Homo sapiens: one gene and its partner. The protein of the gene in region 1 interacts with the protein of each later gene in a pairwise test. Each region holds a gene or a part of one and is shown on either strand. Other genes may lie near its edges.

Region 1 (7,241 bases):
AAAGGTAGTACATGGGAAAACTGCTAAAACATACAACACTTCAACTTTAAAACAACACCTAAAAAGTATTACTACATAATCTAACTTTCAATCACCTCAATAAACTGTCACTTAATAAAATTTAAAGATTTGTTGTCGTTAATACAACAGACAATTCAAACTTAAAAGCTTGCTCCCAAGTACAAATATGTTTGGTAAGATCCAATAAATGGCATAAAACCTTCTGTAGCTCAATGATCATCGTAATACAGAAATTACACCAGGCACGGTGACTCTCGCCTGTAATCCCAGCACTTTGGGAGGCTAAGGCGGGAGAGTCACCTGAGCCCAGAAGTTCGACACCAGCCTGGGCAACACGGCAAAACCTCATCTCTACAAAAACTACAAAAATTAGCCAGGTGTGCCTGTAGTCCCAGCTACTCAGGAGGCTGAGGTGGGAGGATTATTTGAGCCCAGGAGGCAGCAGTTACAGATCGTGCCAGCCAGGGTGAAATAGTGAGACTCTATATCAAAAAGAAAAATAAAAAAGAACGAAAGAAATTGGGAACACACAGAAAAAGAAACAAAATTTAGGCCTAATACACTCAACATTAAATAGATTCTGAATTGCAATTTTTGCTAAAGCAAAATACAAATTACAAGAAGCTTCTCATCTTTTATCACATAAGAAATAAAGTTGTAAGAAATAAGCTAAGTTTTTAGTACTAATAATTACTAGCAAATTCTCTGAGATTTGCTATACTTATAATAACAGGAAGTACTTGTATGAAGTTAGAAATTTATTTTAGTAACTTTTTCCTTTTAACGTTAAAAGCACCTTTTTAAAAAATGCAGTAGAATGTAATGCTGAGCACTTAAAATTAGTATTTCTAAAAAGATACCAAAAAATTTGCATTTGGCTAGTATTACCAAGAAACTTTTAAGGCTAAAGTTTCCAACATACTTTCATTTTTTTAAACAGACTACTTAAAAAAAAAAAGGAAACGAAAGGAAGAAAAAAAACATTTTAATCTCAGACTTTCAACTTAACTACATTTCTTTTAACCAAACATTTATAGAGCACCTAAGAAGTGACAAGCACTACAACACTGGGAAATGTGACACATTACATTTACTCCAAACTAAACCTTTTATTTATTCGGCTTCTGAACTTATTATTTCTTACTCAAACCAAAACTTTTCTTAAGAAATTCTCACCCAACATCAAGGTACATATACGAGTTACCTAATAAATGCACTTTCACCACTGTTTTACACAGGTGATGAGAGTTATAGCTAGGATTTGTGACTAACAAAAGGGATTCATTCCTGAAACATGTCTATGCTTCATGAAATGAGATAGGAATAAACTGTTTCAGGTAGTTTACAGCATCCCAAACTCAAAGAGAAAACCTTAAAAAAATTAGACTAAACTTAATTACTCTGTATAGTAGACCAAGATTTAAGTAGCCACAGCTTTTACCTTCTACAACCACAAGTATTACAAATTTTAATTTGGATGCAAAATTGTCAAAGCAGTCTTGATTCTGAGGACAAGTGAAATATTTTTTTAAATAGTTCAAAGGAACTGTCAAAAGTAGACAACGTTGATATTCTAACATGCTATCTGTTGCATTTCTACACTTGTGAACACTCTACCCTTTTCAAGCACTTCTGAATTTGTAATGGATGAAAAAATACAAGCTAGTGTCTAAGTTCCACCAGTTGAATCCAGACTTTTCAAAAATCTAAGGTTTTATTCTAGCATGTGTTTAAAAAAAAAAAAGACAGCATTCATATACATATTCTCTCAAGTAACAAAAATACCTGTATTTTTATCGTTATCATTTCTTCCAACAATTAAGCAAATTTTTTGACCCTATTCTCCACTCAGTTAACATATTGACATCTAAGAGGAACCTGGCCATCAGTTTTCCACACATCATAATGCAACAGAGCCTCTGACTTATTTACAGACCAACCAGATCAATAAAGAAAAATAAACCATATAACCCCAAGTCACTGGAAATACAAGAAACAACTGGTATCTCTGAATTGTGTAAAAAATCACAAAAATTCTCTTTTTAAATCTTTCAATTAAATTATTTTTGTGACGAGTCAAAGAGTTTTCTGCTAAAATTTTACAGTACTGTTCACACAATAAATAAGATTCTCTTTCATCAGTGTAACTGATAGAACCACAATACAGTTCAGTTTCTAGGGTCAGATTACCTGACTTGCTTTTTATTTTACCTTTTAAAACACTTTAATTCATGCCGTTATTCCTCTCATTCCCTACAAAAAGAGATGTTCAATATGGGAGAATCATCTTCAGTTGAGACATCCTATAACTGCCTCCAACTCCACAGCAAAGCCCGCCAGCTGACCCCGGTCTCTCTGGGGAAGGGCTCGGTCACCAAGTCACCAAACACACCTTCCTCTGCAAAACTCGGAAGCCCCACACGACGACCTCGTCGAAACCTCCTACTTCCTGAATTCGATAACCCCAGAGATTCGTTTTCCGCAGGCAATCTTACCTTCATGATGACTCTGGGACCAAGGTATCCTCTAAAACACCAGGTTCAGCTGCACCTGGAGGGGAAACAAAAGACACCCAGTCAACACCACAGGAGCCCCTCTGCACTGGCGGAGGCGGAGGGAAAGAAGCGAGCGACGTCCGAACCCCGAAGAAAGAGCCGCAACCAGGCGCCAGCCCCCGAACCATCACACGCCGACTCGGGGCTCCCTCCGGCCCCGCCATCCCCGCAAACCCAACCACCTACACAGCTCGGCAGCTTCCCGTCCCCATTGTCGAGACCCGACGGAGTTTCCCGTCTACGACAATGACGCCATTTCTGTCAGAGAAGAAACTCACAACAAGCCCGGCGTCCGGCGCAGGGCCGGCCGCTCTCCCCTAGGGCCTCGGCGCCCGGCCGAGCGAATCCGCGCCCCCACGCGCCGCGTCCGAGCGAGAGGCCGGCCGGGGGCCACCGAGGGGCCAGGAGGGCCTGTGGGCCGCGGGCAGGACCGGCCCGCCACAGAGCCCCTGCCCACGTCCCGTTCCGGGCTCAGACCCGACAAGTGGGAGCGAGATCAACATCTGGCCCCGCCGCGGGGACAACGTGAGGGCCGAGGGCCCCGGAGGCGGAACGGCCCCCACCCTGCCCGGGCCCCCGACCGCGGCCGCTAAACCGCTGAGTGTGCGGCCGCCCAGCCAGGGGGCGGCTCGGACACAGCGGCTGCGGGGGGTGGGGGTTCCCGGGAGGCCGAGGCCCCGAATTCGGGCGCCGCAGGGACCACCACCGCGATCTTCCTCTGCTCCTTGGCCGGGCCCAGCGACTCCCAAAAGAACCCCCTTAGGAGACCACGAAAGCCCCAGAAAATATCCCTACCTTCCTCGGAGGCGAGATCTGACCCTGGCACGTCCAGAGTCCCCTCTCTCCTTCTCCCCCCCAAAACCAGCAGGCCCGGGGGAGAGATGGGGAAGAAGGGCGGCGGGTCCAGCGGCTGCTGAGGCAGAGGCTCCGGCTCCTCCTCCTCCCGCGGCGGCGACTGGTACCTTTGTTTGGCGGCCGCTCGGGCTCCCTGGTTGGGGGGAGGGGGACGACGAAAAATCCCCCCCGGACTGGAGGTCCGGGCCCCCAATCGCGCTGCCCTCCAGAGGACGGCGGCGATGGACCCTCTGCAGCTCCCTCCGGGCAAAGGTCCAGGCGGTGGCCGTGGCGGCGGCAAGATGAAGCTCAAGAGTCTCCCTCCGCTTCGGCGACCGAGCTCCTCACTCCGGACTCGACTGACGGGCAAACATCGCTTCCCCCCCACCGACTCTAGGTTCCCCCCCTTTCTCCCCTCCCCTAGATTTTTTTTCCCCCCCTCCCCTACCTCTTTCCCGGATGGCCTCTTAGACGACCTTGGATTGGTTAAAGTTCTTTAGAACCCGCCTATACACTGTTCCTATTGGTCCCTGGATACAAACAACGACGCCATTTTCCCACCAGTTCTATGGAAACAGAAAGTTACGCCTCAAGGCTTTCTGGGAAATAAAGTCCATACTCTGGGGCCAACGCGCAAATCCTCGTCCGCGAGAACTGCAAGGCCCGCAATGCCCTGCGCCTGCGTGGACCGGTGCGGGGGCGGGGGGGAGGTGAAAGGGGCGGGGCAACAAAGCAGTAGGGAGGCGGCAACGACGCCTGCGCAGTGTGACCGGGATGGCGCATTTTCTTGCACCAACTAATGCGGTGTCGCTGGCGGCTGAGGAGGGCGGAGAGTTCTGTGGTGAAATAGTGGGAAGGATTCATGTAGGCATCGGGAAGAGCCTAAGTCCACATTATAAAATAGGAAGTTGATGCGGGGTACAGTTACTCCCGGACCGGCGGCGTGAAAGTCGTGATATCATCGTTGAACTGTGAGCGGCAGTGGCGGCGGCTGGGGGGAACCCGGATGGGAAGAAGGGCGGGGGAGGCTGGGAGGCGGGGCAGAGGAAAGAAAGAAAGGAGAGTGAGGACCCGGATGCTGAACCGGATTGTGTATGAATTTTCCATCCCCTAGCTTTAAGCGAGGAGGGAGAGGAAGGGTTGGCCAAGTGGGGCGGAAGGGAGCATCTGAGCGAGGAGGAAGCAGAAACCTCACCGTTTCTTCCCCTCCGGACTCTGTGCTAGCACTGTATACGTTTGCAGTTCTCTGCCCAGCCGCTGTGGAAAATCGGCCTCGAAGTGATTGAAATTCCCTGTTTATATCAGGCGGCTTCTTTCAGATCCATCGTCTTTCTCCCGGAGTATGAATGGAAGGATTCAGTATGCGCTTCACATTTGTATGTCTCTGGCCATTCTCAAACCAGGCCCTTCCCTTTGAAAAGTCTTTTGCATGGGATGTTCACTTCTTAGACGCAAGGTTGTGTGCCCTGGTTTCATCGTCTAACGCGTTAGAAGGCGCTTTCATTTCTTCATGGGTGTTGAGCGCCGACCACTGGGGTGGCCTCTGCCTTCGTAGACCTGCGCCTGGTGAGACGGACAGATGCTGAACAAAACGATGTGAAATTACCGCAGTGGCAGTGCCCCAGAGGAGAGTTCCACGGTGATAGGAGAATGAGGGAATTTGGCTTCTTTAGGGAGGGAAAGGAAGGGTTTCTGAGCAAGTGAGGATCGAGCTGAGAGCTGAAGGGCTAGCAGGAGTTAACTAAGGAAAGAGAAAAGGAAAAGACATTCCAGACAAAAAGACTAACTTGTCAGAAAGCCCTGTGGCGGAAGGGAGCTTTTCCAATATGAAGAACTGAGCCTGGAGAGATGGGATGAGGGGGAGTGTCGAACCTTTTAGGCTTTGTAAAGGAGTTTTGGTTTTCTCCTAATAGCAATGGGATATCTTCCAAGGAATCTCAATCAAAAGGGAGAGATGGCTCCGATTGGAATGTCATCCCTGGCTGAAGAGTAGAGGAAGCGAAAAAAAGAAGAGTTAAAGAGGCAAATGCAGGGAACCCGACGAGGAGGCTATTGCCGTAGTAGTTCACATGGTGAAAAGAATGGAGCGTTTGTATTAATGATTATGGATTCACTCTTTGAACAAATTTCTGGCAGCTTTTTAGTTTTGAAAGTGAGAAGTTTCAGACTCTCACTGAGGTATTCTGTAGTTTTTTCACTCTAAAAGGAAACTAGTAGAGTTCATGTAACACACACTAATGCCTCTTTACATTTAACTTTAGTATGTGATAGCTGAAATTTCCAGCTGTGATAAATTGGGAAATCCTTTGATTTAAAAGAAAAACAAAGGCGGGTGAGGGTGAGAGTATATGCCACGGTGTGTAGAATCCTTTAGACTCTTAAGAAGACACAAGGCGGCTGGGCGTGGTGGCTCACGCTTGTAATCCCAGCACTTTGGGAGGCCGAGGCGGGCGGATCACGAGGTCAGGAGATCGAGACCATCCTGGCTAACACGGTGAAAGCCCGTCTCTACTAAAAATACAAAAAAATTAGCCGGGCAAGGTGGCGGGCGCCTGTAGTCCCAGCTACTCGGGAGGCTGAGGCAGGAGAATGGCGTGAACCCGGGAGGCGGAGTTTGCAGTGAGACGAGATCACGCCACTGCACTCCAGCCTGGGCGACAGAGTGAGACGCTGTTTCAGAAGAAAGACACAAGGCAAGTTGGTTGTCGATACCTGGAAAAATTGAAGTTCTTATGTTTTCATACCACTGAAAATGCTTGTATGTAAATATCCTCTGGGACAGGAAATTGACTTAAGTGAGTATTCTTAAACATCTCTAAGTGAGGAAAGGAAATATTTTTTAAAGCATAATTAGTGTTTTAAGTTGAAAAATAACATCAACCACAAAGCTCTACGAATTGAAACAAAGATTAGCTCTGATTTCTGTGCAACAGGGTACACCTGTTACAGGTCCTGACACAAAAGGGAATTCTGAAAGTGCATCTCATTGATTTTTAAGTTCGGTCAAATGTGTTTTGGAGGCTGTGAGAAAATATACAAACGTGATTCTTGCTCCCAACTTGTAGTTGAGAAAAGATAGATACTAACATTTAAATAGAGAAGTATATGAGATCCTTTTTTAATTCTACTTTTAATGATGTTCGATAATAATCTTTTAGCTAAGCCATTATTCTTCCTGTTTTGCATCTTCTTTTCTTACTTCAATCCCTGATAATAAGGTCACGTGTCAGAGATCAAATAGTATAGGTAATAGGTTACCTAAATAGGTATTTGCATAATAGGTTACCTAACTAAATAGGTTTTTGCCTAATAGGTATGTTGATTATTTCGCTTACTTGATTCTTTATGAGCCTTTTTTTCCTTGCGACGTCTTTGGTATTAATTGTTAGTCAAGATGGATGTAGAAATTTTCCATATGGGATGTTTCTCTTTGAATTCATGTTGTTAAAATGATTTCTTTTGGTGGAGTGCTGATCTTTTTTATGATTGTTTCATATAGATAAGAACAGACTACAAAAAAATATGCCTTTCAATCCTGAAGAGTAACCTGAACTATACACTAGTTTTGTGCTTTAATTTTCATTTGTAATCTGCCTTCAATAAAGAGTTAAGCTAGTGGAATTTATGTCTTAGCTTGTTATAACACAAACACGAATATTTGTCTGCTTGGCATTAAAGGGTAAAGATATTCCATAGCTGGGAATCTTAATCTGAGGTACGTGTAAACATTCAGGGACTATATGATCTCTGAGAATTTGTATGTTGTAAGTCTTTGTGGCAGTGTATACATTTGTGTTGCAACTTATTAACACATACACCGGGCTTTTTTTT
Region 2 (7,470 bases), on another chromosome or scaffold:
TAATACTATCACATTGGCAATTAGGTTTCAACATACGAATTTTGGTGGGACACTTTCAGATCAGTGCCATTCTATATGGTGACTCTTCCTCAAACCAGGTGCTTGAGCAAAACCAATTTGCACAGAGCCACTCCTCCAGCTTCAACCCACTCAGCCAGTTATGGGCATATCACAGGAGAGATAAATCTTCGTCATTTTAAGCCATTGAGGCTTTGGGATTGTTTGTTACTACAATATTACTTGGCCTATCCTGTCAGTCATAGACATGTTTCCAGATCTTTCAGTTTTTCAGGAAATATTAAAACTCTAGGTTATGTGACTCAATGTTCTTTTTTTAAAACATTTACTGATAGTACGAAAACTTTTGGTCTTGCCTAAAAAATACAATGGAAATATTCTGAGGACTTTAACTGAATAGGTTTCACCCTTTTTATTATCATTATTATTATTGAGACAGAGTTTCGCTCTGTTGCCCAGGCTTGAGTGCAGTGGCGCGATCTCGGCTCACTGCAACCTCCACCTCCGGGGTTCAAGCGATTCTCCTGCCTCAGCCTCCCAAGTAGCTGGGACTACAGGCACCCACCACAATGCCCAGCTAATTTTTGTACTTTTAGTAGAGACGGGGTTTCGCCATGTTGGCCAGGTTGGTCTTGAACTCCTGACCTCAAGTAATCTGCCTGCCTCTGCCTCCCAAAGTGCTGGGATTACAGGCGTGAGCCACTGCACCCGCCCATCACCCTTTTTAAAAACTTATTTAGGCCAGGTGCGGTGGTTCACGCCTGTAATCCCAGCACTTTGAGAGGCCGAGGCAGGAGGATTGCTTATGAGAGCAACCTGATCAACATGCCAAGACCCCATCTCTACAAAAACATACAAAAAAATAGCTGGGTGTGGGGACATGCACCTGTGGTCCCAGCTACTCAGGAGGCTGAGGTCAGGGGATCCCTTGAGCCCAGGAGGTCACAGCTGCAGTGTGCCATGTTCACGCTACTGCACTCCAGCCTAGGTGACACAGCAAGACCCTGTCTCAAAAAATAAAAATTAAAAACTATTTAGAATTTTTATTTTTAAAAATGCTTTTCCTAGTCTTGTAATAAGAAAGCAACTAATTTTACATGTCAGTCTAGAAATAAATAAATTTATTTATTTATTTTTATTTTGAGACAGGGTCTTGCTCTGTCACACAGGCTGGAGTGTGGTGGCACGATCACGGCTCAGTGCAGCCTTGACCTCCTGGGCTCAAGTGATCTTCCCACCTCCGCCTCCCAAGTAGCTGGGACTACAGGTGCACAACACCATGTCCAACTAATTTTTAAATTTTTTGTAGAGACAAAATCTCGCTATATTGCCAGGCTGGACTTGAAGCAATTCTCCTGCCTGGGACTCCTAAAGTGTTGGGATTACAAGCATGAGCCACCATGCCCTATTTTTAATTGTGGTAAAACATACAGAACATAAAATTCCTCTTTCTAACCATTTTTAAGTGTATAATTCAGTGGCATTAAATATATTCACAATGTTGTACAAGCATACTCAGAGTTCTTAACTGTTGTCAACTAATCAAAAAATATTTTGAATACTTTAGGGACTGAATAAAATGTGTCTGTAGACCCAGTTCTGCCAGCATGTGGCTCTGCAGGACACCATGCTCCCTCTCCCAAGCCTGCAGTCCACGCTCCCTCAGCTTCCACTTCATAGCCCTTCTCTTCTCATGCATGCCTTGGCTGCTCTGAGGGCCCTTTCAGCTCAGAATCTTTGGTCCCAGATAAAGGGTCCGTTGGTGGATAAAGCAGTGAGGCAAGTGGTGTATACCTGTGTTATGATACAAAAAACAGACACTTGGTTTCCTGCGGTGGGGATATCGGGGAGCAGGCAGCAGCTACAAAACCTTTCTTTGCAAAGAATTAAACTCCTCAGCATCTGTCAAAGAAAGGGTCATCCCAGGAGGCTGGGTCTAGAAGTAGATTACACCAGGAAGAACCCACCATCTATACATGCCTACAGTGTGCACATTCCTATCCTTGCAACAACACTTTCAGCCAGAAAGCAGGGATTCTATATGCCCATTTCCCAGGCTCACTGGCTTAGTGATGGCTCATTGCCTGTAATCCCAGCACTTTGGGAGGCCAAAGTGGGCAGATCACGAGGTCAGGAATTCGAGACCAGCCTGGCCAACATGGTGAAACTCTGTCTCTACTAAAAATACTAAAAATACAAAAATTAGCCGGGCATGGTGGTGGGCGCCTATAATCCCAGCTACTTGGGAGGCTGAGGCAGGAGAGTTGCTTGAACCCAGGAGGCGGACGTTGCAGTGAGCCAAGATCACGTCACTGCACTCCAGCCTGGGCGACAGAGCAAGACTCCATCTCGGGGAAAAAAAAAAAAAAAGCTAAGAAAGAAAAGGGTTGATATGTACTATTAAGGAATAATCTTTTTTTTTTTTTTTTTTTAAATACAGGGTCATATTCTGTCACCCAGGCTGGAGTGCAGTGGTGTACTTATGGCTCAATGCAGCCTTGACCTCCTGAGCTCAAGTGATGCTCCCACCTCAGTCTCCTGAGTAGCTGGGACCACAGGCATATGCCACCACACCCGGCTAATTTTTGTATTTTTTGTAGAGCCAGGGTTTCACCATGTTTCTTAGTCTGGTCTCAAACTCCTGGGCTCAAGTGATCCTCCCACTTAGGCCTCTCAAAGCAATGCGATTACAGGTATGAGCCACTGCATCTGGCCCAGGAATAATCTCTAAGATATTTTATAAAGTGAGAAAAGCAGGATGCAAAACTGTGTATACTATGCCTTTTGTTTAAGAAGGAGAGGTCAGGGTAGGAGGAAGACCTACTTTTCACTGTACGCTACTTTGTGTTATTTGAAAATTAAACAGTAGGTACATTGGGATTCCACCTGCAAATCCTACACTTATCCAAGATAACTTCTAGTAACATTGGCTGTGGTTCATTTCATGCTTATTTTAATGTAAATACACGGAATGTATGTATATATTTATGCAGGAACTACAGTCTGGCATATTTTCTTCTCCTCTTTAATAGGTCTTTATTTGTGATCTTTAACAGATCTTTATAAAGCTGTCTTCTCTTTAAATTGCTGTCTCTAGGCTTAGCCATCCCCCCAACCCATACCCCTAATTCTCTAAAACATGCCGTGGGTGGTTCGCCCTGTGTACTGTTGCTTTGGGAAGGATTTCCTTCCCTCATGTCCACTCTCCGCCTTCCCTCATGGCAATCTAGCTATCCCTAGCCCCAGGGCACAGTTGTACCCAGGACTACCAAGATGCTAAGCCTTGCCCGTACAGGACCTAATGTGCCAGTACCCTCTTTCCCTCTCCTCCTCGCCCCCTTCCCTTCCATCTTTAGGGAATTCCTGGCAGGTTGGGTAGGGGATGAATGGTTAAGGGGTATTTTGTGAGCAGCGGAAGACCCAGTGCCAGGGAGGCCAACAGAGGGCCTAGCAATTAGAGAATACTTATATATATTTTTGGTGCCTACCATGTGCCAAGCAATGTATTAAGAAGTTTGCACACATTACATGTATTCCAACAATACTGCAAAGTAGGTTTCTTGGAGGGAACCATGTGTCGTTGTTTGCCTGAAACAGTCATGGTGTTTGCCTGTTGTCCTGGCAAAATTATTAATAGCATCTCCTTTCTCTAGCAAAAGGTTCAGATAAAAAATTGTATAGTGACCTTAACTGTCCCCATCTTATACGTGAGGATATTGAGGCTTAGAGAGGTAAGTTCATCTGCCCAGGGTCACATGGCTAATAAATGATAGGGCTGAGATTAAAACTCTAGTCAGTATGGCTCTGCTAGGGACTGAACTCTGACATGGACATGAATTGTGTCCCCGCAAATTCCTATGTTGATACCCTAACCCCCAATGCGACTGTATTTAGAGACAAAGCCTGTAACAGGGCGATAAAGGCTAACCGAGGTCCAGATTATTGCCTTCTCCCCAGGCCGCCTCTCTTCCACAACCGCCCCCACCCCACTGCAGTCAGGGCCCTTCCTCCTCTGTCACAACAGCTCTGCTAACCCTGCACTATCACTGCCTGCGTCCTTCGCAGCCTCCTGCTGCTGCTCTTCCACCGCTGCGTCCTCGTTGGCTGGCGCTTAATAAAAATTGACTCGGTGAATAAATGAGTGAAACTGTCCTTTTAGGGATGGATGGATGATGTCCTGTTCAAGGCGGTGCCCTTCTCTGGCATTCCCTAACACAAGCTTGACCCGAAGTAGGCGTTCTGAAAAAGGCCGACAGTCGATGGAGGCCAACGCAGCGCCCCTCTCACCTCCTCTCTCCGTCCAGGCCGGGTGACCACGGGCCCGGCCCGCAGAAAGGAGGCGGCGCGGCCGGCAGGGATCAGGACTGGAGGGGGCGGAGCCTCCCTCGCGGCCGGGCCCGGAGTGGGAGGGGCCTCCGGGACCAGGCCTCTAGTGCGCACTCTCGGAAGCGCAGCCGAACCCGCCCTCCGAATCCAGAGAGGCGCTGCTGACACCGCCGCCACACCGCCGCCACACCGCCGCTGCCTCAGTCATGCCGGTGAGTGGTTGCGCCGTCCCCGCCACGCAGACTTGCAGTCCCGGGTTGCTTCTCGGCTGCACAGCCGCTTGACCGGATGCTGATCTTGAAGGGCTCAGGCGGCGGCCGGAGCCGCTGTTGTCCCCTAGCTTACCCCACCCAGCCCCCAGCTTTTGCGACCCTTCAGAAAATGGGATCCGAAGGGAGTTTAATCTGGGAGCCAGGCTTCAAAACGTCGGAGCTGGAAGGCCTCCAGGGGCGACAAGCCCACACCTTCCCTGCGTACACAGAGAAACAGAACCAGAGAGGGGGCAGGGGATGGGGGAGTTGGTGGCCAGCGGGAACTGAGACGCCTAGTCCCTGAGCCTTCCTCCTGGCTGCCCTGCCCGCGGAGCTGGCCTGAAGGAGGGCGGTGGGGAGGCTCTGGACAAGGGAGTGGACCCGGTTATTTCCTCACGGACCGGGCAGGTTTTCAGAGGTTCATGCTTTTCTTAATTTCCCTGCCCACTCTGGCCTACTTTTCAGATCAACTCTGGGCGACACTGAATGGAGACACTTTCTCAGCCTGAACCCATGAGCCCCAGAGAGGTTCAGGAACCCCCCCGCACAGTCACCAGTTGCTCAGTGGCTGTGTCTGGGAAGTCAGTCTTAGCCTGCCTTTGCAGATCACTCAGTCTTATCACATATATTGTTGCTCGTGGCCTCGTTTTTTATATAAAGAATTGAGGCCTTTGGCAGATAAAAATATAAAAAGCCCAGTAACTTATTCCAGGTCGTGTTGAAGTTGGCAGAGCCAGGATTCAGCTCCTTATCCTTAGGCTCCCCATCTCTCCAGGCCTGACCACATGGGAGGTGCCAGGCAAAAGCAGTCACACCGGCTTGGGAAGATGCTCTGATCTCAGTTGCATCTTGGTTAGGGTCATGTGGTGTTTAGCATTTTCTTCAGGGTGCCTAATTCATGGCTCTGGGCCAGGTGGATACCCAGAGGTATCCCACAGTTGCCATGTGTCTTTGCATCCTGTCTTTAGGGAGCTGGCAGGTGAGCCTGAGGCCTCCTGGGCAGAGCCACTGACATCTCAGGTGTCATTTCCTGTGGGTCTTGCCAGGTGCCTTGAGACAAATCCTCCAACAACAAAGTATGGATAAGGAATCTGATAGAATCAGCCCTACCAGTTGGGCAAGTCAGCCTGTGGCAATGGTAGAAGACAGTATTAATTGCCCTGGGGCTTGGGGAGTGAAGGCCACCAGGATTTTTTGTGGGGGGTGGCAATGAGGAAAAGGCTAGCTTGATCATCACTGTATTCTGTATCTTCTGGGGATTTTGACAAAAAACCCTCTGGAGCAGATGATGGGAATGAGGAGGGCACTTGGCACCATGTACCACAAGATAACAGCTGAAGGAAAGAGGGTGTTAGTCAAGGGATTTCCTCAAAACTGGAAAGGGAAGAAAAAAATATATCTATATACACATACTGGAAGGGGAAGAGTGTGTTACCTGAGAGTTTTCTCAGACAAATGCCCGAGAGCACAGGGTTTGGAATCCCAGAAACCTCTGAAAATCTGTGCCCCAGCTTGCCAACTGGGTGACCTCAGGCAAGTTGCTTTATCTCACTGCCTTGATTTCCTCATCTGTAAGATAGGGACAAAAACTTTGACCTCACAGGACTGTTGTTAGTATTAACTGGAAAAATGCCAGTAAAATATGTCACACAGCCACTGATATATCTAGTCCCCAAGAAATGGTAGCTCCTGTGTAGACGTAGGACAGGTGGGCTAGAGCTATAGGCAGGTGAGGCCGGGCATGGTGGCTCACGCCTGTAATCCCAGCACTTTGGGAGGCCCAGGCGGGCAGATCACTTTAATGCAGGAGCTTGAGACCAACTTTGGCAACATGATGAAACCCTGGCTCTACAAAAAATACAAAAAATTAGCCAGACGTGGTGGCCCGTGCCTATAGTCCCAGCTACTTGGGAGGCTGAAGTGGGAGGATTGCTGGAGCCTGGGAGGTTGAGGCTGCAGTGAGCCGTGATCGTGCCACTGCATTCCAGCTTGGGTGACAGAGTGAAAGTGAAACCCTGTCTCAAAAGAAAAAAAAAAAAGGAAGGAAGGAGAGAGAAAGAAAAGAAAGAAAGAAAGAAGAGAAGAGAAGAGAAAACTATAGGCAGGCAGCTTTCAATCCCATTTTAACAAGATCTCAGTGGTTAAGCATTGAGGTTTTAGAGGCTGACTATGTTCAATTCAGGCCCTACTCAGCCGAATCACCGTGAGTGTGTGAACTAACCCCTAAATCTCAGTTTCCTCATCTGTCAAGAAGGGATAATAATAGGCCAGGTGCGGCGGGTAATGCCTGTAATCCCAGCACTTTGGGAGGCTAAGGCAGGCAGATCACAAAGTCAGGACTTTGAGACCAGCCTGGCCAACATGGTGAAACCCCGTCTCTACTAAATATACAAAAAAATTAGCCGGGCATGGTGGCGGACGCCTGTAGTCCCAGCTACTCGGGAGTCTGAGGCAGGAGAATCGCTTGAACCCAGGAGGCGGAGGTTGCAGTGAGCTGAGATCGTGCCACTGCACTGCAGCCTGGGTGACACTGTGAGACTCAGTCTCAAAAAAAAAAAAAAAAAAAAAGAATCATCCCACTTACTGACTTTAAAAACCTACTTTAAACCTACTGGCTTTTAAAATCTACCCATTTTATAAGTCTTTATAAAAGACCCCAGAGGCCATGAGGAACCAGAACTACCCAGTTATGCATCTGGTGGTAGAGCCAATCTTGAGATTCTCCTATAAAGAAGTGATTACTCTGTCCATGAAATAGATTTTCCATCACCCTCAAATTTATTTTTGCCCCTCAGAGGTGGAGGAGGAGAGCACTGAACTGTAATGTTTATACCCAGAAGCTGGTTTCTGGCTTCTGACCTTTATACTGTGGGGG

What was found.
Region 2: the proteins of GGPS1 (region 1) and ATOX1 interact in binary tests that used the Homo sapiens proteins (3 or more experiments, as listed by UniProt).

The regions. Positions count from the first base shown.
Region 1 is NC_000001.11:235,324,398-235,331,638, forward strand, and holds the start of GGPS1 (geranylgeranyl pyrophosphate synthase), read left to right. Parts: upstream 1-4,172; 5' UTR 4,173-4,381; intron 4,382-4,610; exon of another isoform or gene 4,611-6,103; intron 6,104-7,241. Other genes in the region: ARID4B (AT-rich interactive domain-containing protein 4B), read right to left, coding at 2,517-2,522. UniProt on the Homo sapiens protein: Catalyzes the trans-addition of the three molecules of IPP onto DMAPP to form geranylgeranyl pyrophosphate, an important precursor of carotenoids and geranylated proteins.
Region 2 is NC_000005.10:151,755,632-151,763,101, reverse strand, and holds the start of ATOX1 (copper transport protein ATOX1), read left to right. Parts: upstream 1-4,470; 5' UTR 4,471-4,550; coding exon 4,551-4,556; intron 4,557-4,741; exon of another isoform or gene 4,742-4,813; intron 4,814-6,030; exon of another isoform or gene 6,031-6,164; intron 6,165-7,470. UniProt on the Homo sapiens protein: Binds and deliver cytosolic copper to the copper ATPase proteins. May be important in cellular antioxidant defense.